Linked DNA regions of Homo sapiens: all the other regions are linked to region 1. Evidence: fine-mapped expression QTL. A gene starts in region 1. Each other region holds a variant in brackets. All regions are shown on one strand. Distances are between the middles of the regions.

The links.
Region 2: its variant is fine-mapped to the expression of TEK in whole blood (INTERVAL, PIP above 0.99). The same link has a PIP of 0.9 or more in neutrophils.
Region 3: its variant is fine-mapped to the expression of TEK in whole blood (TOPMed, PIP 0.97).
Region 4: its variant is fine-mapped to the expression of TEK in whole blood (TOPMed, PIP 0.98).
Region 5: its variant is fine-mapped to the expression of TEK in whole blood (INTERVAL, PIP above 0.99).
Region 6: its variant is fine-mapped to the expression of TEK in whole blood (INTERVAL, PIP above 0.99).

What each region holds. Positions count from the first base shown.
Region 1 is chr9:27,107,418-27,111,508 of GRCh38, reverse strand. It overlaps TEK (TEK receptor tyrosine kinase), which reads right to left and starts at 2,284. Exons shown (of 23, transcript NM_000459.5): 1 at 1,867-2,284. The coding sequence starts at 1,918.
Region 2 is chr9:27,191,371-27,195,461 of GRCh38, reverse strand. TEK (TEK receptor tyrosine kinase) reads right to left here. Exons shown (of 23, transcript NM_000459.5): 11 at 2,839-2,973. Among named protein-coding and RNA genes, the nearest start is that of TEK, 84 kb to the right of the region's middle. The variant T/C (reference allele first, on the strand shown) is at 1,613.
Region 3 is chr9:27,224,270-27,228,360 of GRCh38, reverse strand. TEK (TEK receptor tyrosine kinase) reads right to left here. Exons shown (of 23, transcript NM_000459.5): 22 at 56-155. Among named protein-coding and RNA genes, the nearest start is that of EQTN, 71 kb to the left of the region's middle. The variant T/C (reference allele first, on the strand shown) is at 1,646.
Region 4 is chr9:27,053,393-27,057,483 of GRCh38, reverse strand. It overlaps IFT74 (intraflagellar transport 74), which reads right to left. Exons shown (of 20, transcript NM_025103.4): 17 at 1,712-1,875; 18 at 1,025-1,150. Among named protein-coding and RNA genes, the nearest start is that of LRRC19, 50 kb to the right of the region's middle. The variant T/ATT (reference allele first, on the strand shown) is at 2,258.
Region 5 is chr9:27,209,634-27,213,724 of GRCh38, reverse strand. It overlaps TEK (TEK receptor tyrosine kinase), which reads right to left. Exons shown (of 23, transcript NM_000459.5): 17 at 828-1,018; 18 at 128-241. It also overlaps the pseudogene RPL36AP34. Among named protein-coding and RNA genes, the nearest start is that of EQTN, 85 kb to the left of the region's middle. The variant TATTA/A (reference allele first, on the strand shown) is at 2,448.
Region 6 is chr9:27,241,357-27,245,447 of GRCh38, reverse strand. No RefSeq gene overlaps it. Among named protein-coding and RNA genes, the nearest start is that of EQTN, 54 kb to the left of the region's middle. The variant A/G (reference allele first, on the strand shown) is at 1,803.

The sequences.
Region 1 (4,091 bases):
ACAAGAAACAACCCACTGGACTAGAGAGATAAACCTTTAAGCCATAAGCCCCTTGCTCCACTGCTTTAGTCTACCAGGAGTTTGACTAGAGGAACGGGCTCCTATGGCTGTGGACATTATCTAGCTGGATTCTTGTTGCAATTATCAAGCCTTGAGCAGTCATGCTCATGGAGGCTTAGACTAGGAATGCAAGCTACGATCAAGACAACAGACCTACCTCAGAAACTAACCTTGCTAGTGTCACCCTTCCTAACAAGAACATGAACCTACTTCCTCTCCTTGGTCCTCTGCCTTTTAAAGGCAGTGCTGTTTTTTCCAGGGATCTGAGGTCTAGACATGGAACAAGTATTTTGGCTACATACCTTTTTGTTTGATTTTATGACAATTCTTCTAAGCCTGTATTGCAAAGTGCTATAACACAGTTGCTTTAGGAGTAAAAAAAGTGAATGAAAACAGTTGTGTGTGTATTAACCTACAAAGTACCTCAGAGAAACTATAGACACCTGGGCTTCACATCACTATAATCCCTGGTATAGAGTAAGTTCCAGATTTCATGTCACTGGTAAATAATGGCACTCAGAAAAAAAAAAATCAAAAATGGAATCATGATAATTATTTGAAGTACATATTATTGGAGAAGTCAACATTATTTAAACAATTTCCACATAAATACTGAAGCCACCTAAAATCTTTTAATTTTTAGCAACTTGTGTTACACATTCTTAAAGAATATTATTAAATTCTCAAAATATTGGTTGTTGAGAGCTATAAAACAAACTGTATTCAACTCAGTTATTTCATTGGATTTGTTTTTTGAATATTTAATAAAATAGTTCAAACACCTAGAAAATATAGCAGATACTTATGTATACTCGAATCAAATTATATTAATATGCCCTATATCCATGAAGTTTAGTGAATTTTCCCAAATTCATCTCCAATATCAATTCGATTTTCGTTATTAAAATTAGAATGTTTTCAAACCGAAGGGGAGAGACTGATGGCAATGATAAATGTATTTGTGATATGTAGTTCAGGTTTGGATACTGCCTTCTACCTATGTCACATAGGCTGAGTGAGCTACAGAGGCACACCACTATCTGGAGTATCTAAGCAATAAACACGCTGAACCCAACACACTGGCCAACCACTCCTTCACTCTACAACAGGCTTCATATACTCTCCTGTGTTAAAGATTTTGGTAACTGCCTAAATTTTTGTTTCATTGGGCCAGTAAACCCTTTATGAATTACTACATGGCAAACATTTTTTAAAATAAAACAAAAATTCTAATAGCCCCAATCTCCCTGACCCTAACTACAAGAAAAAAAAAAAAGCCTACAATTTCATTGCTTTGCTTAAAATAGGATGTAGATATAAAATCTTTTTACAGAAAAGCATCTTTGTTCCCTTTTAACAGTGACAATCTATACACTGCCTTAATTGGGCCCCTGTATTTCTCAGCATGAATTTCATTTTTTACTGAAGATTTTCTTTAAAGCAGGTAAAACCGGTTTGTTCTTTAAAAAAAAAATCAATAAGAAAAACACTCCAGAATGAGGAGCAGGAAAATAATGCATGATAGTAAGGGGATCTCTTCAAATAAGATGATTTAATCGGTCCTCAAAGAGTTTCTAACACAGGGGCCAATCACCCAGAAGACAAACTAGCAAAATCAGTTCATGCCACAGAGCCTTTGCATTTCAATCCTTCCACACATATTGACTGGAGACTCACAGAGAAATGGTGCCTTTGCTACAGCCACCCCTTGTTCATCAGCACTGATGAGATTTGGGGAGAGCACCCAGAAATCACTAACTCTGTTTTTTAAAATACTAAATTAAAAAAAATAAAGCCAAACCTTACCAGAAAGGAGCAAGCTGACTCCACAGAGAACTAAGCTGGCTAAAGAGTCCATGCTTCCCCAAATCTCTCCATCCAGTTTCCACAAATGTGCATGAGGTCCCAAGGATCCTTTCAAAAACCCAGCGGTTTGTGACTTTCCATTAGCATCGTCCTACTACGTCTTGTTTACAAGTTAGAGGCAAGAAGGAACAGCACAGAAGCAGGCTGTAACAGTCTCATTTCTGTCTGAGCACAGGGAGTTTTAAGTTCCTTTTTCCTGTTTCCTTTGTAGATTAGGATGGGAAAGGCTGTATCTTAAAGGCATTTGGTATCAGCAGGGCTGGGGGCACTCAAGCCCTATCCATCTCGCAATTCATCAAAACACTTATCTGTTGCTGTTGCTTCTGCTGCTGCTTTTGCTGCTGCTGTAGGGGCAGAGGAATTTTTGTTGGAAGTGTGGGTCCCGGTCAGCATTTTCAGAAACAATAGGGGTATCCTCTCATAGGCGGGAAACTGAGAATAACAAGCCCTCCACCTATGTATGGTATGCGATGATGACCAATCCTTCTCAGACTTCTAACAGCTCTCCCGGGGCTACTGGGATCTCTGACAGAAGGAGCTTTTGGGTGTGGGAAGCCGTTTTGGCTTTTGTTTTCTCATTTTAACCCACATGGTTTGAATTGGGAGAAGAAGGTTTCCGTGATGAGAAAATACAACCTGAAAAGCAATTAATTTCAGTGAGCACCGGTGAGGTCAATGCTCAATGTAGCCCCAAGAGACCAGAGTCCAAAATTGTTAGCCTGTTTTCTTTCACACAGATGGCCTGTTGGTTGGCCATTAGCCCAAAGATACCCATGTTGCCGGCTATAGCTTTAATTTTCATTAACAATTCATCTAAAGGTGATCAAATTTCTTGAAGAAGTTGGCATAGAAGGATTTTGGTAATGAGAAAGATTTGGTAGTCATTGAGCAATGGTGTTTCAGAAGCAAATTATATATAACATTTAAAAACTAATCTGTGTAAAAACACAAACATACAGGATTAGATTGGGATAAAAATGGTGCTCATGAGAGCAAAGAGAGTTCATGGACCAAAATGAAAATAGCCATGGAATGTACAATATCTAGAATGAGGTCAGAGACCCTACACTTATCCAGATAATTACTCCACAATATGAATTATGACATTAGATTAGAGAGTATACACTTTGCTCATCATCGACCTTCATGCCTGAGGAAATCATTATACTCCTCCTTTTCCTACCCACCAGAGGAAAAGGCAGATGCAGCTAGTCTTGACTAATTTCTGTCCCAGGTTTTATCACATCGATGATGATCTTAAGAACCAATTAATGTTTCCAGTTTGCAGGTGTGAAAAAGCCCAGGTTCTGTCTGCAAACAGAACTGGGTTCAAATACTGGCTCAGCCACATGTGTAGCTGAGAAAAGTTACTTAGTCTTTTTGAGCCTCAGTTTCAACAGCTGTGAAATGGCAAAAATATCTCCTTCCCAGGTGTTTTGAGAGGAATAAATGAGGTTTAAAAATATAAAACCATTTGGTACTATGCCTAGTTCTTTGAAGGTTCTCATTAAATGTTAATAAGTTTATTTTCTTTCATCTTTCCATTCAGTCTCAATTTAAATTCCAAGAGCTTCTACTAAAAAGCTATTTTCTATTCCTATGAGATGACTTTAAATTTGTCATCACGAAAAAAAAAAACAAAAACAGTGGGCCTGGCACAGTGGCTCACGCCTATAATCCCAGCACTTTGGGAGTGGATCACCTGAGGTCAGGAGTTTGAGACCAGCCTGGCCAACATGGCAAAACCCCATCTCTACTAAAAATACAAAATTTAGCTGTGCTTGCTGGCGTGCACCTGTAACCCCAGCTACTCTGGAGGCTGAGGCAGGAGAATTGTTTGAACCTGGGAGGCAGAGGTTGCAGTGAGCCGAGATCGTGCCACTGCACTCCAGCCTGGGTGACAGAGCAAGACTCTGTCTAAAAAAAAAAAAAAAAAAAAGAAAAAAAAGAAAGAAAAATGAAGTTCCACACAGGCTAAGTTACTTGCTCTGCTGTGAGTAGCAGAGGTAATAATATCTGAATCCTGAGCTCTGGACCTCCAATTTTTCCCTTGTTTCATAGTTGAAAAGTAGATCAAGAGTAATGTAGGACATCACAAACACCAGCAGGGTACACCTAGACCTTACAGAAGTATTTGAAATGAAACTTTGACAGATAAGAATAGT
Region 2 (4,091 bases), 84 kb before region 1:
CAGAAACAGATATAGAGCATATCTGTGGTATTAAAATTTCACGGGAGGCAGGATCTACTAGGATAAACGTATCTGAAACAGCTCACTGGGGATGAGCAATACATTTTTTTTTAAAGGTTGAGAAACACTGCTCTTACTCTTGGTTCGAGGTGAGAGGAAGGGTCTGTTTCCATCTACTGGGAATTAAGTCCCACCAGCCTGGTTCTGACTACCCTCAGACTAGTGAGAACCAGCAGCTAGGCATGCATTTTCTTGGCATTATGCAAAAGGTCTGATGGCCCTTTCTCTGTAACCTTTGCAAATGGAGAGAGGTGATGCCATCTCCTCTTGTTAACCTCTGAAGTTTAACCTCCAAAATAGCCACCCAGAGTGGTTTAGGCAGGTTTGCAATGACAAAGGAGAATGGGGAGTTGATATTTTGGAGAATACATTTACACCTCCTAATCCTGTGCCTGGTACAGAAGAGTAACTCAATAAATAGTCATTTCCCCTTTTCCCGCCCTTTGGGAACATGATTACCCCATACGCCTCCCTGTCTGCCCCTTTCTGCACTATGTTCAGAAAGTGTTCTCTTCCTTCCCCTCCCGGACTCCCTGGCCTTCACCATCTCAATCAACACACATAAACAGTGCAACTGCCAGACGAAATGAAAAGCAAACAGCAGCAAAATTCAAATGATGGGAAAAGAAGAACCTTCAATAATCCCCTTCCCGCCTACCCCTGAGAACTACTTTGAAATATTCTGAGAGACCTCCTGGCTGCAACACATTCTGAGGGCTGAAGACAGTACAGTGTGGGGCTGTGAAGTGTTTTATGTTCTGTTCCATAAATACTTTCCATCTGAGTCAGTTTATGCTCTTCCCCTCTTGACTCACCAACAGTGACTTGAGAGAGAATTAACTACCATTTGCCTTTTAGCAGTAACATGATGACATATCAGGGATCCCTTGGGTCATGGTTGTAGAGGTCCCTTTTTCCTCTCTATATAGTTTCTGGGTTTATTTTTTATATTCACAACCAGGTGGGTCCCCAAGCAGCCATTTCTTACTTGTGTGTAATGCTTCTATAAGTCTCAGAGTAGCTTTTGAGTCTCATTTGGTTCTTTAAGGATGCTGCTAGTAACATAAAAACTAGGTGGGTGGTGTGAAGGAAGGATGTTTCTGTTAAGGGTGCACAATCTCTGCAGAAGAAAAGTGGATGTTCTTCCTGGTTTTTTCACTCAATCATAACATATCCTTCTACTTTTAGTAAATGGAGTAAAACACAGGCAAATATGTGAACTGGGATAATAAGCTGGTGCCTTTGGGATTCTAGGTAGAAATAATAATTGGAGAAACAAAAGGATATGGAGCCTGGACTGGGAGTGGTGACTCATCCCTGTAATCCTAACACTTTGAGAGGCCAAGGCTGGGGGACTGCTTGAGGCAGGAGTTTAAGACCAGCCTGGGCAACAAAGCAAGACCCCGTCTCTACAAAAAAAATTTTTTGAAGTAGCCAGATGTGGTGGTGTGCCTGTAGTCCCAGCTACTCAGGAAGCTGAGGTGGGAGGATGACTTGAGCCCAGGAGATAGAGGCTGTAATGAGTGTTGATCAAACCACTGCACTCTCCAGC[T/C]TGAGTGACAGAGCAAGATCCTGGCTCTAAAAGACAAAGATATGAAGCCCGAAGATTTAGTATGGTGATGCATCTTACTGTTATTAAGTACTCTGAGTCTCTACTTTTCAATCTGTAAAATAGGGAAGATGATAATTCTTACTTTCCTAGGTGATATAAATCAAATATATATGAAGTTGAAAGTATAAAGTACTGACCAAGAGAGAGTAACAGAATGGTTATACACAGTGAACAATTCAAAGAACCAGGAATGGAACCTTACAAAAGATCACTCCAGTATTTCAATGGAGGGTACCTGGGTAACAGAAAGCTGGAGGTCAGGTTAGCATCAAGGAGGCTTCACAGAGTTAATTAACGCAATAGAAGGCCAGTCAATACCAAACACCACTGAGAAGTCCAGAAGTAATTTTACACATGTTATCTAGAACGTGTGGACCCAGGACCAGCAGCATCACTTGGGAACCTACTAGAAATGCAAATTTTTGAACCCCGGCCCCATCCTCACCTCAAAACCATTGAATCCGAAACTCTGGGGACGAGGCCCAGAAACATCTTTTAACAAACTCTCTGAGTGATTCTGATGGACACTTAGGTTTGAGAACCACTGATTTAGAAAAGGGAGGTAAATATAAGAAATAGCTTAAGGAGATGAAAGTGGCTACCTATAGGAAGCAGGACTGGGAGGTGGAGGGTGGAGCAGGAGAATGCTGTTCTTTAGATAAAAGCTTCTTATTCTATTTGATGTCATGACTCTGACCATGAATTACTTTGAAAAATTGGAAATTATTTTTGAAAATAAATAAACTGGGACTTCTAAAATATGCCTGTGGCAAGAGCCTGGTCTGGGCCCTTAAGATGGAAACAGGAAGCCAGTGATAAAATGCAGGAGCTGAAGCTCAGCACAGTTGCTGCTGTGTAAATCCCAGCTCCTAGGGGAGGCCCTGCCTTCCTGAAGGCTCATCTGCTTCCTTCTCTGTCCCTACAGAGTGCTGCAGACCTCCTCCCCCAGGGAGACAGACCAGGAGTCCAACCCAAATAAAGGAACAGTTTGGCTTGAAGTTGCTAGCCTTCCTGTCACTTTCCCACCCATTCAAAAGCGAACTCCTGCCACCTCCATCCCCACCCACCCACTCACCCACCACCACCCTTCCTGGTCTTCCTTCCTCTTTCCCCTTCCTCCCCCTCCCACCCAGCTCATGAATAAATGCCTGTTGGCTTCCACTGACCGATAGAAGCTGTTGTGAAGCGTCTCACAGGTCCAGGATGCCCTTCCCCACCCTCTCCACGACGGACCAGTTGCACACAGAGTTCATATTCTGTCCGAGGTTCCAAATAGTTGAGTGTAACAATCTCATTTGTCACTGAGAAGAGAAAACGTCCAGGAAACTTAAGTTGGCATTCTCTTACATTCCTTAAGCCGGGGTTGTTGTTATTGCGATGTGAACTAATTTTAGGTTTTCAAAACTACGTCTTAGTGAAACAGAGAGGCAATTCCATCTTCAAGGCCTCATCCTTCCCAATATGAGGAAAATTAGGCTTTTGAAATGTTTCCAGGTTACAATGTACACATTAAAGTGTGTATTTCTGTGCCACTTACACATTTCTGCTCTGGTGCTTTTGTCTTTTCATTTGTAGAATAAAACCTCACAAATCTATATGGAATACCAGATTGGGGGAATACTCAATTAGAATAATTTAATTGCTACTGTTTTCAAGTATGTACACTGATTGCAATCAAGCTATCGAGAGAAAAAGATGCTTAGGAGGTTTGCTCAAAATGACCAGAAAACTGATTTGCAATGGTCATACTATTACAATGAAGCATTCTGAAGTCCTTGAAAATAGCACCCATAAACAAATGGTATCTGTCTCTTTTCTCCTTACCTATTTGCTTTAGTCAGCCTCTGTTTCTCCATGGATACTGCAAAGATAAATTTCTGCCTTATCATATGATAAATTCCTACTTGGTAAGAAAAAAAACTGGGATGTGTTTAACAGTTCTTAGAAGACCACTTTGTGGATGTCCACTTGTAGACAAAGGTGATGGATTATTACCACCATATGACAGCAAAAGACCTAGCCATTGATGTTGGAAACAGCAATTCAGCAAATCAGCCTGACATCCCTGGAATTCTGAATTTTGATAGAATCTACAATAGTATGTGAAGGACTCAGTAATAATACCATTTTATTCGGTCTACCCAGGTCAGCTAGTGTTATTCAGCCCAAAACCCTCCTCCTCTTCTCTTTTTTTTTTTCCATAGTTTTCTTAATTATCTCCATATAGTGAATAGAGGGTCATTTTAAGGAAATCATAGGCATAGTAAGACAAAGGTATGGGCGGAGGAGGACATGCTGCCTACAAGCATGTTAGTGGCAGGTCTTTTTACAGAATAGTCCAATTGAAGCAGCATGGTCACTGATAATGCTCTTTGCTTTTTAAAATTGTGATTTTACATTATCATACAACAAATATAAT
Region 3 (4,091 bases), 120 kb before region 1:
CCTGGGCACATCAGGTATTCCAATTAAAGATCTCCTGCCTGACTTTAATACTTACCTTTCGCTCCTCTAACATTCTGTTTAAGGACACCAATATCTGGGCAAATGATGGCCTCTCATAAGGCTTCTCCCGCCAGCATTGTCTCATTAGATCATACCTTCGAAAGCAAAGAATTAAAGGGTTAATTCTATAACTGTGCTTCAGTCCTAGGCACGGCAGGAAAAGAGAGGAGAGAATGAAGCCACCCAATGCATGGTTATGAAGCTTAACCAAAGTACAGCCCCTAGGAAGTTTCTATGAGGACTCCCACCTCCCTAAGCCAGTCTCATTTCAACTCCTCATAGATTTAGTTCCTACCCTCGGTACTGTTTCTGCAGGACCTTGGTCTCAGCTATTGCAATCATCTAGAAAGAACTGGGTATGTGTCTAGAGCAGCATTTGCCTTGGAATGCTGCATATTTCAAAATGTTAGTGTCTCTTAAAGGGCCCATGCTCAAACTTGTAAAATGCCACCCACATAAAGTCCCTTTAAGAGGCAGGACTTTTAGAAGCACTGTCATTAAAAACAAAAAAATGCCTGTTTAACCAGGTGCTATGGACTGAATGTTCATGCCACCCAAAAATCATGTGTTGAAACCATGTGATGGTGTTTGAAGGTAGGTCCTTTGGGAGGTGATCAGGTCATGAGGGTAGAACCCTCATGAATGGGATTCGTGCTCTTACACAAAAGGCCTCAAAGAGCTCTTTTGCCCCTAGTGCCACGTGAGGACACAGCAGAAAGATGGCCATCTATGAGCTAGGAAATGGCTCATGGCCACCAAATCTGCTAGCGCTTTGATCTTGGATTTCCCAGCCTTCAGAACTGTGAGAAATACATCTCTGTTGTTTATAAGCCACCATGTTTATGGTATGTTGTTACAGCAGCCGGAAATGACTAAGACAACAGGTTTAACACAAAGTTTCCAAAGTAATTGACCGCAGAACTCCTTTCCCCTTGCATCATGTATTTATATCTTGCACAACACGTGAAAACATAGTTTGGGAAACACTGACCTAAGACAGTGCTTACTCAGTTGTGCTCAGAACTACTCTGTTATTAAAATGCAGAATTCTGGAACCTGCCCTAAACTTACAGAATCAATGACTGACAGTGGGGACCAAGAGCCCACATGCTGAACAAATGACTCTGGGGAACCTTATGTGCATGGAAGGCTATCAACCATTGGCTTAGGGTGTCACAGATCCCAGAACAGCTTACACTTTAACATAAGTTTCTTAAAGACTAAAAAATCTTCTCACCCCTTATGAAGTGAATCTCAAAAGGTGGAATTTTAGGGACTGTCTAGTGATGGTCAACTATGTCCAGGTTTTTCCAGGATGGTATGTATGCTTCTTGCTCCAGTGAGATTAACACCCTCCTTCACTCTTAGAAGTAGCTCCATTTAGACAATAAATTATCTGCTCAACCTAGAGCCTTGCAGTCTTCAAACATGCCAGTTAGCTTCTACCACGGATAGTTCTGGGAATGCTGGTATCACTACAGTTCATTATTCTTACCCTTGGAATAAATCTTACTTTTGAAAGTAATCTTAGCAGAAGCAAGGTTCTAGGCAAGAAAATGTATCTTTATTTTTTTATTATTATACT[T/C]TCAGTTCTGGGATACATGTGGAGAACATGCAGGTTTGTTACATATGTATACAAGTGCCATGGTGGTTTGCTGCACCCATCAACCTGTCATCTACATTAGGTATTTCTCCTAATGCTATCCCTCCCCTAGCCCCCACCCCCCGATAGGCGTGTGATATTCCCCTCCCTGTGTCCATGTGTTCTCATCCTTAAACTCCAACTTATGAGTGAGAACATGCAATGTTTGGTCTTCTGTTCTTGTGCTAGTTTCCTGAGAATGTTGGTTTCCAGCTTCATCCATGTCCGTCCAAAGGACAAGAACTCATCCTTTCTTATGGCTGCATAGTATTCCATGGTGTATATGTGCCACGTTTTCTTTATCCAGTTTATCATTGATGGGCATTTGGGTTGGTTCCAAGTCTTTGCTATTGTGAACAGTGCTGCAATAAACATACGTGTGCATGTGTCTTTATAGTAGAATGATTTATAATCCTGTGGGTATATTCCCAGTAATGGGATGGCTGGGTCAAATGGTATTTCTAATTCTAGATCCCTGAGGAATCGCCACACTGACTTCCACAATGGTTGAGCTAATTTACACTCCCACCAACAGTGTAAAAGCATTCCTATTTCTCCACATCCTCTCCAGCATCTGTCATTTCCTGACTTTTTAATGATTGCTATTCTAACTGGTGTGAAATGGCATCTCATTGTGGTTTTGATATGCATTTCTCTAATGACCAGTGATGATGAGCTTTTTTCATGTTTGTTGTCTGCATAAATATCTTCTTTTGAGAAGTGTCTGTCCATATCCTTTGCCCACTTTTTGATGGGGTTGTTTTTTTCTTGTAAATTTGTTGAAGTGCTTTGTAGATTCTGGATATTAGCCCTTTGTCAGAAGGATAGATTGCAAAAATTTTCTCCCATTCTGTAGGTTGCCTGTTCACTCTGATGGTGGTTTCTTTTGCTGTGCAGAAGGTCTTTAGTTTAATTAGATCCCATTTGTCAATTTTGGCTTTTGTTGCCATCGCTTTTGGTGTTTTAGTCATGAAGTCTTTGCCCATGCCTATGTCCTGAATGGTATTGCCCAGGTTTTCTTCTAGGGTTTTTATGGTTTTAGATTTTACGTTTGTCTTTAATCCATCTCGAGTTAATTTTTTATAAGGTGTAAGGAAGGGGTCCAATTTCAGTTTTCTGCATATGGCTAGCCAGTTTTCCCAACGCCATTTATTAAATAGGGAATCCTTTCCCCATTGCTTGTTTTTGTCAGGTTTGTCAAAGATGAGATGGTTGTAGATGTGTGGTGTTATTCCTGAGGCCTCTGTCTTGTTCCTTTGGTCTATATATCTGTTTTAGTACCAGTACCATCCTGTTTTGGTTATTGTAGCCTTGTAGTATAGTTTGAAGTCAGGTAGCTTGATGCCTCCAGTTTTGTTCTTTTTGCTTAGGATTGTCTTGGCTATGCAGGCTCTTTTTTGGTTCCATATGAAATTTAAAGCAGTTTTATCTAATTCTGTGAAGAAAGTCAATGGTAGCTTGATGGGGATAACACTGGGCAGTGTGGCCATTTTCACAATATTGATTCTTCCTGTCCATGAGCATGGAATGTTTTTCCATTTGTTTGTGTCCTCTCTTATTTCCTTGAGCAGTGGTTTGTAGTTCTCCTTGAAGAGGTCCTTCACATCCCTTGTAAGTTGGATTCCTAGATATTTTATTCTCTTTGTAGCAGTTGTGAATGAGAGTTCACTCATGGTTTGGCTCTCTGTTTGTCTGCTATTGGTGTATAGGAATGCTTGTGATTTTTGCACACTGATTTTGTATCCTGAGACTTTGCTGAAGTTGCTTATCAGCTTAAAGAGATTTTGGGCTGAGACAATGGGGTTTTCTAGAAATACAATCATGTCATCTGCAGACAGAGACAGTTTGACTTCCTCTCTTCCTATTTGAATGCCCTTTCTTTCTTTCTCTTGCCTGACTGCCCTGGCCAGAACTTTCAATCCTACGTTGAACAGGAGGGGCGAGAGAGGGCATCCTTGTCTTATGCCGGTTTTCAAAGGGAATGCTTCCAGCTTTTGTCCATTCAGTGTGATACTGGCTGTGGGTTTGTCATAAACAGCTCTTAATATTTTGAGATACGTTCCATCAATACCTAGTTTACTGAGCGTGTTTAGCCTGAGGGGGTGTTGAATTTCCTTGAAGGCTTTTCTCCATCTATTGAGATACATGTGGTTTTTTTCATTGGTTCTGTTTAGATGATGGATTATGTTTATTGATTTGCATATGTTGAACCAGCCTTGCATCCCAAGGATGAAGCAGACTTGATCATGGTGGATAAGCTTTTTGATGTGCTGCTGGATTCTGTTTCCCAGTATTTTATTGAGAATTTTCGCATCAATGTTCATCAGGGATATTGGCCTGAAGTTTTCTTTTTTGTTGTGTCTCTGCCAGGTTTGGGTAACAGGATGAT
Region 4 (4,091 bases), 54 kb after region 1:
TCAGACCGTAGTTATTGACTTTGTACATGACACATAATGCTTCATTCAATCATTCAACAAATAATTGCTGAGTACCTACTATGTGCCAACCAATACCACAGGGCAAGGAATAAAGTAAACGAGACAGACATTGTCTCTGTCCCGTCAGAGCTCTCAATCTAGACCTCACACACTGTTCAAGTAATTATCAGCAAGATGAGTGATATGAAAAGGGGGCTGCAGGTATATATATCTACGCATCCTATGTAAATAATTGGAGATATGAATTAAGAAGTTCAAGGATACCTGGATTGCTCTTTATAGCATTATTTCAATGGTTTTAAAACTAGAAATTACCTAAATATCCAACGAAAGGGAATTGGTTCAATATATTATGCGACATCCATGCACTAGAATATCATTAAGCTATTAATATTTTTTAAAAGTCAATATATATATTGACAAGGGAAAGTACTTATGATGTATAGTTAATCATGAAAAACAAGCTCCTAAATGATATGTACAATATGGCACAATTTCTATAAATGCATAGAAATAAATGTGTACCTAAGTATATGCATAAATATGTGTATACACATATCTATCTATCTATCTATCTATCTATCTATCTATCTATCTATCTATCCATTGACTAAAAGAACCCACACTAAAGCAACAATAAGCATTCTCTCTTCTGGGTGGTGGGGTACTAATCATTAGAATTTATTTTATTTGTGATTTTATGGATTTTTAGTTTCTGTATTAGTAATGTTTCACTTCCAAAATTTTTAAAATATACTACCCCATATATCTTAACAGTTGTGCCCAAGACAGTATCTAACAGAGTTGGCTTTCAATATAGGTTTATGGAAGGTAAGAAAGCAGGAGTCCATTCATTCTGAATGAAGACTGTACAGAATCTGGCTGTCTTAAAAGTCAGAAAATCTAGAAGGTATATAAAGCAAATTTTAAAATAAAAAATTGATTGTTTTGGGGTGAAAATATAGACTAAGACAATTTCAAAGTCATTTAAAACATTTTTTACCTGAGAATGTGTCTCATTTTCTTGCAATTGTGTTTTTAGTGCCTCATACTCTATGTTTTGCTTCTCCATTATTTTCTTAAAGGCATTTCTGTGGGTTGATAATATCATTCTCTCCTGATGTAATTTCTAGAAAGATCCAAATAGAAGTGACAGGTTATAGAAAATATGTAGTAAGCCAATATAAATCATATTTAACTTAATTTCAATAACTATATTCTGGTAAAATTATATCAAGGCTATAACTACTCTAAAACCCGTTTGTAAAAATATCCTTTGAACTATAAGCTATGTTAACATTATCTGTATTAATAACTCTATTAATGCTGCCATATCTCTCCCGACCCTACCAAATTAAGTCTAAATTAATGTAAATGGCAATGGAAAGCCACTGACAAGTTTCAGGTAGGATAGAGTCATAATCTAAACTGCATTTAACAAAGCTCACATCTGCTGAAATGCTCTGTATTAAGTAGCAGCTTATACCTTGCTTTTCAATTTTTGCTTTTCTTTAAAACTTTAAGTCACTCTAAATTCCAACTACATATGTAAACATTTTTATTTTTTCTCACTTATATATATAAAATAATCAACTTAAAATAATAAATCCTATAAACCACAAATATATTACATTTGATCAAGAAAAAAACAATCTGAATTGTAATTCTGTAAGACTTGGTTAACATTTACCTTTATCTTTTCTTCACCTGATGATTTTAAAGCTGGCAAATCATTATATATCTCCAGATCAGTTGTCATTTGCTTAATTTTGCTTTTTAGAGAATGCTGTTCTTCAGTCATCTTACTTTCTAGAAGCTCCATTTTCTGCAGATCCAACTGCAGACGTTGAATGTCTGAAACATAAGAATTTAAGGTGATAATTAATCAAAATTTTATTCCTTTCACATAAGGAAATGTAATGCAACTATTAAAAATCATGTTTTTTAAGAATATCTGTAAAAGAAATATATGTTCACTGTAACCAGTGAGATAATATAAACTAAGAAAAAAAAATACTCATCCCCTCAATAACCAATTTCAGGTAACCAATATATTAGGGAATCAAGGTAACCTGATGTCTATTAGCCACAGCTGTCTCCATGCTAACAAACATTTAAGTTTTTTTCTTGCTTAGTAATATAATCTATATTATGAGATAAAGACACATTATTTTTAACAGAAGCATGACACAGTTATGTAGGGAAAAAACCAAGTTATAAAACATTATATATATAT[T/ATT]TGAGCACAATTTTATAATTGCACACATAATCAACTCTTACTATCTGTGGTAGTTATGTCCTATGAAGTTATTGTGAACAATGAGTTAGCAAATATTGAACTATTGCTCCCAAAGGAAATACAGAGTTAAGTTCCTGTGAGCCTTTAGTCACATTTTAGTCAATTAGCCAATACATAATCTTGCTTTATGTTTGTTTAAAGACATTTTATTTACTATAGGTTGTAGATTCACTAACATTGAACTCACAGCCAACAGCACTGTAACTTATGCCTGAATTAAGTTTACCTATCACACATTTTCTCCATAAGGCTATGATGTGCCTTAGGAACACTTAGCACATCAGCACTTTGCTTGGGGCCATTTTAAATGGCATGATCACCAACAGAAAGCACAAAAATGCAAAAAACATGCCACTAAATATACTGCAAAAAGGAAACCTCTTTATAGTATGAGAACTGACATAAGAAGGCAGAGTGTTGCCTTTTTCAACTTCTGTTGGCAATGTGCATGTCAGGCTGTTGAAATTTTTCACGAGTCTGCACATGCCCACAAATGATCATGAAAATGCTGCAAGGATTGATTTGGGGGGTACAAAGTAACTTTAGTGAGAGGGCAAATTCACAATATGAAATATATGAATAATGAGGATACCTGTGTGTGTCTCATTCTTCCATTCAAAAATATCAAGCATCTACTATGTGCCAGGTGCTGAGGATATAATAGCAATCAACAGAGACATGGTTTTCACTCAGGGAGCTGTATTTTAGAGGTAGAAGCAGGCAATTAAATAAGTATTTACAATAAACTGGATAAATATGAAAAGAGTAGCACAGGGTGCCATAAAAGCATGTAGCAGGGATGAAGAGAGCTCTCTAAAGATATGCCTTTCAATTAAAGGCTTAAGGTTTATGAATATCACACAAAGAGGAAGGTAAAAGTGTTCCAGCAAAAACAATCAGCATGTGCAAAGTCTAGAGGTAAGAAAGTCTAGTACCTTTGAGCCAGTAACAAGTTCAGCATACTGAATAGTAAATGAATATGAATGAATTTGAAGAGTAAAAAACAATGCTTCGAAAGTCACTGATTTGAGAAAACAGGCTGTTATCCAACCAAAATTTTTAAAGTTAGTATAATTAAGCCAGTATTTCTTGAATGTTTCCTTTTATCCCTTTAAGAGTTTTAAAAGTCAACCACAGCGACATACACTATTTAAAAATATATATGTGTATGTACACGTAAATACAAATATGTATATAGCAAAACTTAAATGTTGTTGCAAAGAGTTTTGTTTTGTTGGATTCTTATCTCTACCACGGTTAGAAATAGTTATGAGAATCAAAGAGCTGAACAAGTGACTAAGGCTTATGCTATTTTAATGCTCGAAATAGGAACTGTTTTTAGCCTGTAGATATTTTGACTATTTGGAGTAAACACTGATATAAATCTAACTGCAAGTTTAATTTGAATATATACTAGGGAAATACATTTAAGAACCATACAAATTGATTTTTCTTGATAAAAGGAGAAAATGGCTGGTATAGGGTAAAGTTTATCTTCCTTTAACAACAGGTCCGCAATGAAAAGCTAAATGCTACTCCAAGGGAAGAGACAGGAAGAGGATGCAGTCTAGTTCCTTCTGATATGCCGTGAAGTTGCAAAGTTTACCAAGCAGTGTGTACATAGGAGCAAAATCTCAGAAGGAACCACTTTGACCCGGGGAAGTGTTTCTAAGATAGTCTGTCATCAGCACATTTGTTTACTCTCTGGAGTTTCCTTTCCAAAAATATAAATAAAAAATATTGCTCATAAATCCCTTGCCTCTTTGCCCATGCA
Region 5 (4,091 bases), 100 kb before region 1:
AGTATCTACTGGGACATACAGTCAGATGCTTCAGTCACCACAGAGCACTGACAGTCTCAGAAGCAACATCAGGAGACAGGGGAGTACCTCGGAAAGGATGCGATCAGTGTCTGTGTCTGGCACTTACCATTGTCTTTTTCACATACACCTCTTGACCTCGGGACAATCCAAAATCTGCTATTTTTGCCACATAGTTTTCACCAACTAAAATGTTTCTGGCAGCCAGATCCCTGTGGATAAACTGAAATTTTTGAAAACATTATGTATTTTCAGCCTAATGAAAGCCCCAGGGCTGAAAACTTTGGGGAACAGGAAAGAAAACAATAGTATAAAAAAGGATTTTAAACAGTCACAATCCAGTTCCCTTAAAGTTCCCCTCCAAAATTCCCTGGTAATGGATTCTGCCAAATGACACACCACATCTTGGCAGAAGAATTTCAGAAAACGAACAAATAAAAAACACAGGTTGTTAAATCCTCCAGCTGTAATGTAGTGTGTCTCTGTTATTACACATTATTTAGAGGCAAACCAGGCTAAGAGAGCTTAAGGTACCTCGCTACGTATTAGGAAAATTATAAAATTTGCATATATGAAATTAGATAGAAGAAAATTATACAATTTTCATAATTATGAAAATTGCTAGATAAACATATTGTCAGTACTAATTTTTCTTTAAATAGATGGACTATTCACAGAGAGATTAAAATGAGGGAGATTTTAAGAAGGAGTTAAAGAAGAGAGGTTGACAGACCCTACAAACATATTGAAACTGACTTTAGAGGGAACTCCACAGGAAAGATATCCAAAGCGAAGTCCTCCGGACAAACCTGTTTTTGGCTCAAGTAGTCCATGCCCCGGGCCACGTCGGCAGCGAAGTGAAGGAGCTGCTGGGAGGACAGTGTGGACGCGGTGCTATTGGCAATGGCAAATGCTGGGTCCGTCTCCAGCACACGGCTCTTGCGAAGGAAGTCCAGAAGGTTTCCATGGGGCGCGTACTCAATGGCCAGGTACAAGTAGCCTGGAGGGAAGGAAGAGAGCATCGACTCATCAGTGGCCCTGAACAGCTATGACATTTAAGAGATGTGCTGTGGAAATTGCCTATAAACTCCATTTTGTCTAAAAAACACATCTAGCAACACCACCCAGGGAGCACTGGGGGACAGGAGGAAGACGGGTGACACCCTCCTGCAATACTCAAAAGGGGCCAGGCTGCAACGCTTGGTTTTGCTCCTTCCCACCCCCTCTCCATTCCTACCAAACCTGCACTCACACAGAGGGCTTCCTGAAATGCTTTTACCCACTCAGTAATAACAGTAGAGTGAGTCAAAGCATGCTCTTCCAGATCTCAGACACGTTCTTCACGTCACCTTTTCATTTGCATTCCATTTTGATCAAGGAGCTTAGTAACATGAGCCAGGCATGTTATTCTAGTCTGCCTCTAGCTATTCCTGAGGTTGTTATTATTTTTCAACAATTAAATATCCATGTGGAAGGAGCCACAACAGGTAATTGTCTCTCCTGCCTTCTACTCCTCCTCAAAACCCATCCTAAGTCACCATATTGCTGATTGGGTCTCTGGCCACCAGAGGTTAGTTTCAAAGATTGCATTTTGCTTCAAGATACCAGAAAACTCAAGCTTTTAGGAAAAAATAAAACAATAGTTCCTAGAAAAACTTATGGTTCATTGTCACTTTTTTGTTCCACATCATTTCTCTCTCTCTTTTTTTTTTTAATAAAACGTTATTTGCCCAGTTTTGTTACTTTTGTTTTCTTGGAATTTTTAAAAAATAAATTATCCCCTTGCGAAAATTTTTTTAAAGGGAATTTACTTGCTAAAAACATCGACATTTATACCTACTAAAAATGTAAAGTTAAAGTTATTTTACTGGTTTTTTTTAAAGAAGAATTTTTTGGGCAAACCATGTTTTTAAAATGATGTATGAATTAGAACTTGAAGCCCAGTGCAGTGGCTCACACTTGTAATCCCGGCACTCTGGGAGGCCAAGGCAGATGGATTGCTTGAGCCCAGGAGTTTGAGACCAGCTTGGGCAGTATACTGAGACCTAATCTCTACAAAAAATAAAAATAAAATAAAAATTAGCCAAGCATGGTGGTGCATCCCTGTAGTCCCAGCTACTTGGGAGTACTTAGGCTGAAGTGGGAAGACTGCTTGAGCCCAGGGATGGGGAGGTTGCAGTGGGCTGACATCGTGCTACTGCACTCCAGACTGGGCAACAGAGTGAGACCCTATCTATCTATCTATCTATCTCAAAAAAAAAAAAAAAAAAAAAAGCTTGAAAGATCTTCTAAGAAATTGAAATTCTAGCAAAAAAGAAAAGTAATATTGAAACCTGTTGCACTATAATGAAAGTTAGACCTAAATTATGGTATACATGTGCTTTCTCACATCTTTACTGAATTATTTTAAAATAATTTAAATATGTATT[TATTA/A]ATAAAGATAAAGGTAATTTACCTTAAATACATATATATGCACATATATTCATATATATACACATATATTCATATATATACATATATTCATATATATATATACACATACATATATTCATACATATATATTCATATATATATATATTTTTTTTTAAACTGAGTCTCTCTCTGTCGCCTGGGCTGAAGTGCAGTGGTGCGATCTCGGCTCACTGCAACCTCCGCCTCCCAGGTTCAAGCGATTCTCCTGCCTCAGCATCCCGAGTAGCTGGGACTACAGGCATGCGCCACTAGGCCCAGTTAATTTTTTGTATTTTTAGTAGAGACAGGGTTTCACCATGTTGGTTGGCCAGGATGGTCTCGACATCTTGACCTTGTGATCTGCCTGCCTCGGCCTCCCAAAGTGCTGGGATTATAGGCGTGAGCCACCACGCCCGGCCTATCTTAAAATTTTAAGAGCCAGCTATGTGCTAATGTGATGACGAAGCAAAATTTTAAGGGATATATTTTTGTTGTTGTGGTTTTTTTTCCCAAGAAGGAAGCTGCATTAATATCATGGTTTATTCTCTCCCTAAAGACCAACTGCAACCAGATGAAGTAAACGTAACCTCAAGATTTTATTGTCCTCAGAATAAAACAAAAGCTGAAACTTAGAACTGGATCAACTGGCCATTTCTCTTCTTATCTCCTCCTAGTGCAAAGTGCCTGGATCCCTTAAGAGCCAGCATTCTCTTAGATCTGCAGTGGGGTCAACACTAAAGCCTCAGCACAGTCTTCTTTGTAGTTTTAGCCTTTTTCCAGAAAACTGGTTTAGTCTGTCCACCACGGCCACTTGGCTTCCTGTCATAACACCACTTTCCCTGGGCATCCAGAGAATCCTTGCCCTTTTGTACTGTGTCATTTGTAGGGTTTGTACAGAAAGTCAGGCGGGTTTTAAGAACACTCACCATGTTTGTGGGAGTGCTATCAGCAAGGACAGCAGGGTGTGTGTGTGTGTGTGGTATGTGTGTGTGTGTGTAACTTTCATTTACACTCCTGTGCCATGCTCATTACTGTTTTCAGGAAGTAGCTCAAAAAATAAATGTCATTACTTCATTATTTAACCTAAGGGACATGATCTGGCTTTCAGAATTACACCCTTATTGGATCATAGAATGATAAATTGTTTGAAGCACCAGTATTTTTAGTTTAATAAATTGAGGAAATGGAAGTAGTCTCTTTTCTATTGTTGGTGTTTGTGCTGCAAAGTCAACAAGAGGCTGTCAAGTTTGTAAATAATTACTGCATGGAGCTTTTTGTGGGAGCAAACTTTTCCACGAGAAGTGAAGTTTAAGCAGAGATTCAGAACTACAAGGCCATGCTGCATGCAGAGGTAAACCCATAGAGGATTTTTGTTGTTACCTACTCACTCACCAGTAATTACATGCATTACAGTAGAAAGTACTCAATAAACATTTGAATTAATAACATAAATTTAACTTTAAATGCATGTGCAACACAGGATAGTTGTAAAGCTCCATTGTAATTGTACATGAAAGCATTCTGGATAAAAACAAAGCACTATCGCATGAAAGCTTCTTATAATTATTTTTAAAATCCAACCATCCTTAGTTTTCATATTACACTAGATTGCTGGCATTCAT
Region 6 (4,091 bases), 130 kb before region 1:
CATGTTGGTGTGGTGCACCCATTAACTCGTCATTTAACATTAGATATATCTCCTAATGCTATCCCTCCCCCTGCCCCCACCCCACAACAGGCCCCGGTGTGTGATGTTCTCCTTCCTGTGTCCATGTGTTCTCATTGTTCAATTCCCACCTATGAGTGAGAACAGGCGGTGTTTGGTTTTTTGTCCTTGTTATAGTTTGCTGAGAATGATGGTTTCCAGCTTCATCCATGTCCCTACAAAGGACATGAACTCATCATGTTTTATGGCTGCATAGTATTCCATGGTGTATATGTGCCACATTTTCTTAATCCAGTCTATCATTGTTGGACATTTGGGTTGGTTCCAAGTCTTTGCTATTGTGAATAGTGCCTCAATAAACTTACATGTGCATGTGTCTTTATAGCAGCATGATTTATAATTCTTTGGGTATATACCCAGTAATGGGATGGCTGAGTCAAATGGTATTTCTAGTTCTAGATCCCTGAGGAATCACCACACTGACTTCCACAATGGTTGAACTAGTTTACAGTCCCACCAACAGTGTAAAAGTGTTCCTTTTTCTCCACATCCTCTCCAGCACCTGTTGTTTCCTGACTTTTTAATGATCGCCATTCTAACTGGTGTGAGATGGTATCTCATTGTGGTTTTGATTTGCATTTCTCTGATGGCCAGTGATGATGAGCATTTTTTCATGTGTCTTTTGGCTGCATAACGTCTTCTTTTGAGAAGTGTCTGTTCATATCCTTTGGCCACTTTTGGATGGGGTTGTTTGTTTTTTTTCTTGTAAATTTGTTTGAGTTCATTGTAGATTCTGGATATTAGCCCTTTGTCAGATGAGTAGATTGCAAAAATTTTCTCCCATTCTGTAGGTTGCCTGTTCGCTCCAATGGTAGTTTCTTTTCCTGTGCAGAAGCTCTTTAGTTTAATTAGATCCCATTTGTCAATTTTGGCTTTTGTTGCCATTGCTTTTGGTGTTTTAGACATGAAGTCCTTGCCCATGCCTATGTCCTGCATGGTATTGCCTAGGTTTCCTTCTAGGGTTTTTATGGGTTTAGGTCTGACATTTAAGTCTTTAATCCATCTTGAATTAATTTTTGTATAAGGTGTAAGGAAGGGATCCAGTTTCAGCTTTCTACATATGGCTAGCCAGTTTTCCCAGTACCATTTATTAAATAGGGAATTGTTTCCCCATTGCTTGTTTTTGTCAGGTTTGTCAAAGATCAGATGGTTGTAGATATGCGGCGTTATTTCTGAGGGCTCTGTTCTGTTCCGTTGGTCTATATCTCTGTTTTGGTAACAGTACCATGCTGTTTTGGTTACTGTAGCCTTGTAGTATAGTTTGAAGTCAGGTAGTGTGATGCCTCCAGCTTTGTTCTTTTGGCTTAGGATTGACTTGGCAATGAGGGCTCTTTTTTGGTTCCATATGAACTTTAAAGTAGTTTTTTCCAATTCTGTGAAGAAAGTCATTGGTAGCTTGATGGGGATGGCATTGAATCTATAAATTACCTTGGGCACTATGGCCATTTTCACATTGTTGATTCTTCCTACCCATGAGCATGGAATTGTTCTTCCATGTATTTGTATCCTCTTTTATTTCATTGAGCAGTGGTTTGTAGTTCTCCTTGAAGAGGTCCTTCACATCCCTTTTGAGTTGGATTCCTAGGTATTTTATTGTCTTTGAAGGAATTGTGAATGGGAGTTCACTCATGATTTGGCTCTCTGTTTGTGTGTTATTGGTGTATAAGAATGCTTGTGATTTCTGCACATTGATTTTGTATACTGAGACTTTGCTGAAGTTGCCT[A/G]TCAGTTTAGGGAGATTTTGGGCTGAGACAATGGGGTTTTCTAGATATACAATCATGTCATCTGCAAACAGGGACAATTTGACTTCCTCTTCTCCTAACTGAATACCCTTTATTTCTTTCTCCTGCCTGATTGCCCTGGCCAGAACTTCCAACACTATGTTGAATAGGAGTGGTGAGAGAGGGCATCCTTGTCTTGTGCCAGTATTCAAAGGGAATGCTTCCAGTTTTTGCCCATTCAGTAAGATATAGGCTGTGGGGTTGTCATAGACAGCTCTTATTATTTTGAGATACATCCCTTCAATACCTAATTTATTGAGAGTTTTCAGCATGAAGGGTTGTTGAATTTTGTTAAAGGCCTTTTCTGCATCTATTGAGATAATCATATGGTTTTTGTCGTTGGTTCTGTTTATATGCTGGATTACGTTTATTGATTTGCTTATGTTGAACCAGCCTTGCATCCCAGGGATGAAGCCCACTTGATCATGTTGGATAAGCTTTTTGATGTGCTGCTGGATTCGGTTTGCCAGTATTATATTGAGGATTTTTGCATCAATGTTCATCAGGGATATTGATCTAAAATTCTCTTTTTTTGTTGTGTCTCTGCCAGGCTTTGGTATCAGGATGATGCTGGCCTCATAAAATGAGTCAGGGAGGATTCCCTCTTTTTCTGTTGATTGGAATAGTTTCAGAAGGAATGATACCAGCTCCTCCTTGTACCTCTGGTAGAATTCGGCTGTGAATCCATCTGGTCCTGGACTTTTTTTGGTTGGTAAGCTATTAATTATTGCCTCAATTTCAGAGCCTGTTACTGGTCTATTCAGAGATTCAACTTCTTCCTGGTTTAATCTTGGGAGGGTGTATGTGTCGAGGAATTTATCCATTTCTTCTAGATTTTCTAGTTTATTTGCATAGAGGTGTTTATAGTAGTCTCTGATGGTAGTTTGTATTTCTGTGGGATTGGTGGTGATATCCCCTTTATCATTTTTTATTGCATCTATTTGATTCTTCTCTGTTTTCTTCCTTATTAGTCTTGCTAGCGGTCTATCAATTTTGTTGATCTTTTCAAAAAACCAGCTCCTGGATTCATTGATTTTTTTGAAGGCTTTTTTGTGTCTCTATTTCCTTCAGTTCTGCTCTGATTTTAGTTATGTCTTGCCTTCTGCTAGCTTTTGAATGTGTTTGCTCTTGCTTCTCTAGTTCTTTTAATTGTGGTGTTAGGGTGTCAATTTTAGATCTTTCCTGCTTTCTCTTGTGGGCATTTAGTGCTATAAATTTCCCTCTACACACTGCTTTGAATGTGTCCCAGAGATTCTGGTATGTTGTGTCTTTGTTCTCATTGGTTTCAAAGAACATCTTTATTTCTGCCTTCATTTCGTTATGTACCCAGTAGTCATTCAGGAGCAGGTTGTTCAGTTTCCATGTAGTTGAGCTGTTTTGAGTGAGTTTCTTAATCCTGAGTTCTAGTTTGATTGCACTGTGGTCTGAGAGACAGTTTGTTATAATCTCTGTTCTTTTACATTTGCTGAGGAGTGCTTTACTTCCAAGTATGTGGTCAATTTTGGAATAGGTGTGGTGTGGTGCTGAAAAGAATGTATATTCTGTTGGTTTGGGGTGGAGAGTCCTGTAGATGTCTATTAGGTCTGCTTGGTGCAGAGCTGAGTTCAATTCCTGGACACCCTTGTTAACTTTCTGTCTCGTTGATCTGTCTAGTGTTGACAGTGGGGTGTTAAAGTCTCCCATTATTATTGTGTGGGTGTCTAAGTCTCTTTGTAGGTCTCTAAGGATTTGCTTTATGAAACTGGGTGCTCCTGTATTGGGTGCATATAGATTTAGGATAGTTAGCTCTTCTTGTTGAATTGATCCCTTTACCATTATGTAATGGCCTTCTTTGTCTCTTTTGATCTTTGTTGGTTTAAAGTCTGTTTTGTCAGAGACTAGGATTGCAACCCCTGCCTTGTTTTGTTTTCCATTTGCTTGGTAGATCTTCCTCCATCCCTTTATTTTGAGCCTATGTGTGTCTCTGCACGTGAGATGGGTTTCCTGAATAAAGCACCCTGATGGGTCTTGACTCTTTATCCAATTTGCCAGTCTGTGTCTTTTATTTGGAGCATTTAGCCCATTTACATTTAAGGTTAATATTGTTATGTGTGAATTTGATCCTGTCATTATGATGTTAGCTGGTTATTTTGCTCATTAGTTGATGCAGTTTCTTCCTAGCCTTGATGGTCTTTACGATTTGGCATGTTTTTGCAGTGGCTGGTACTGGTTGTTCCTTTCCATGTTTAGTGC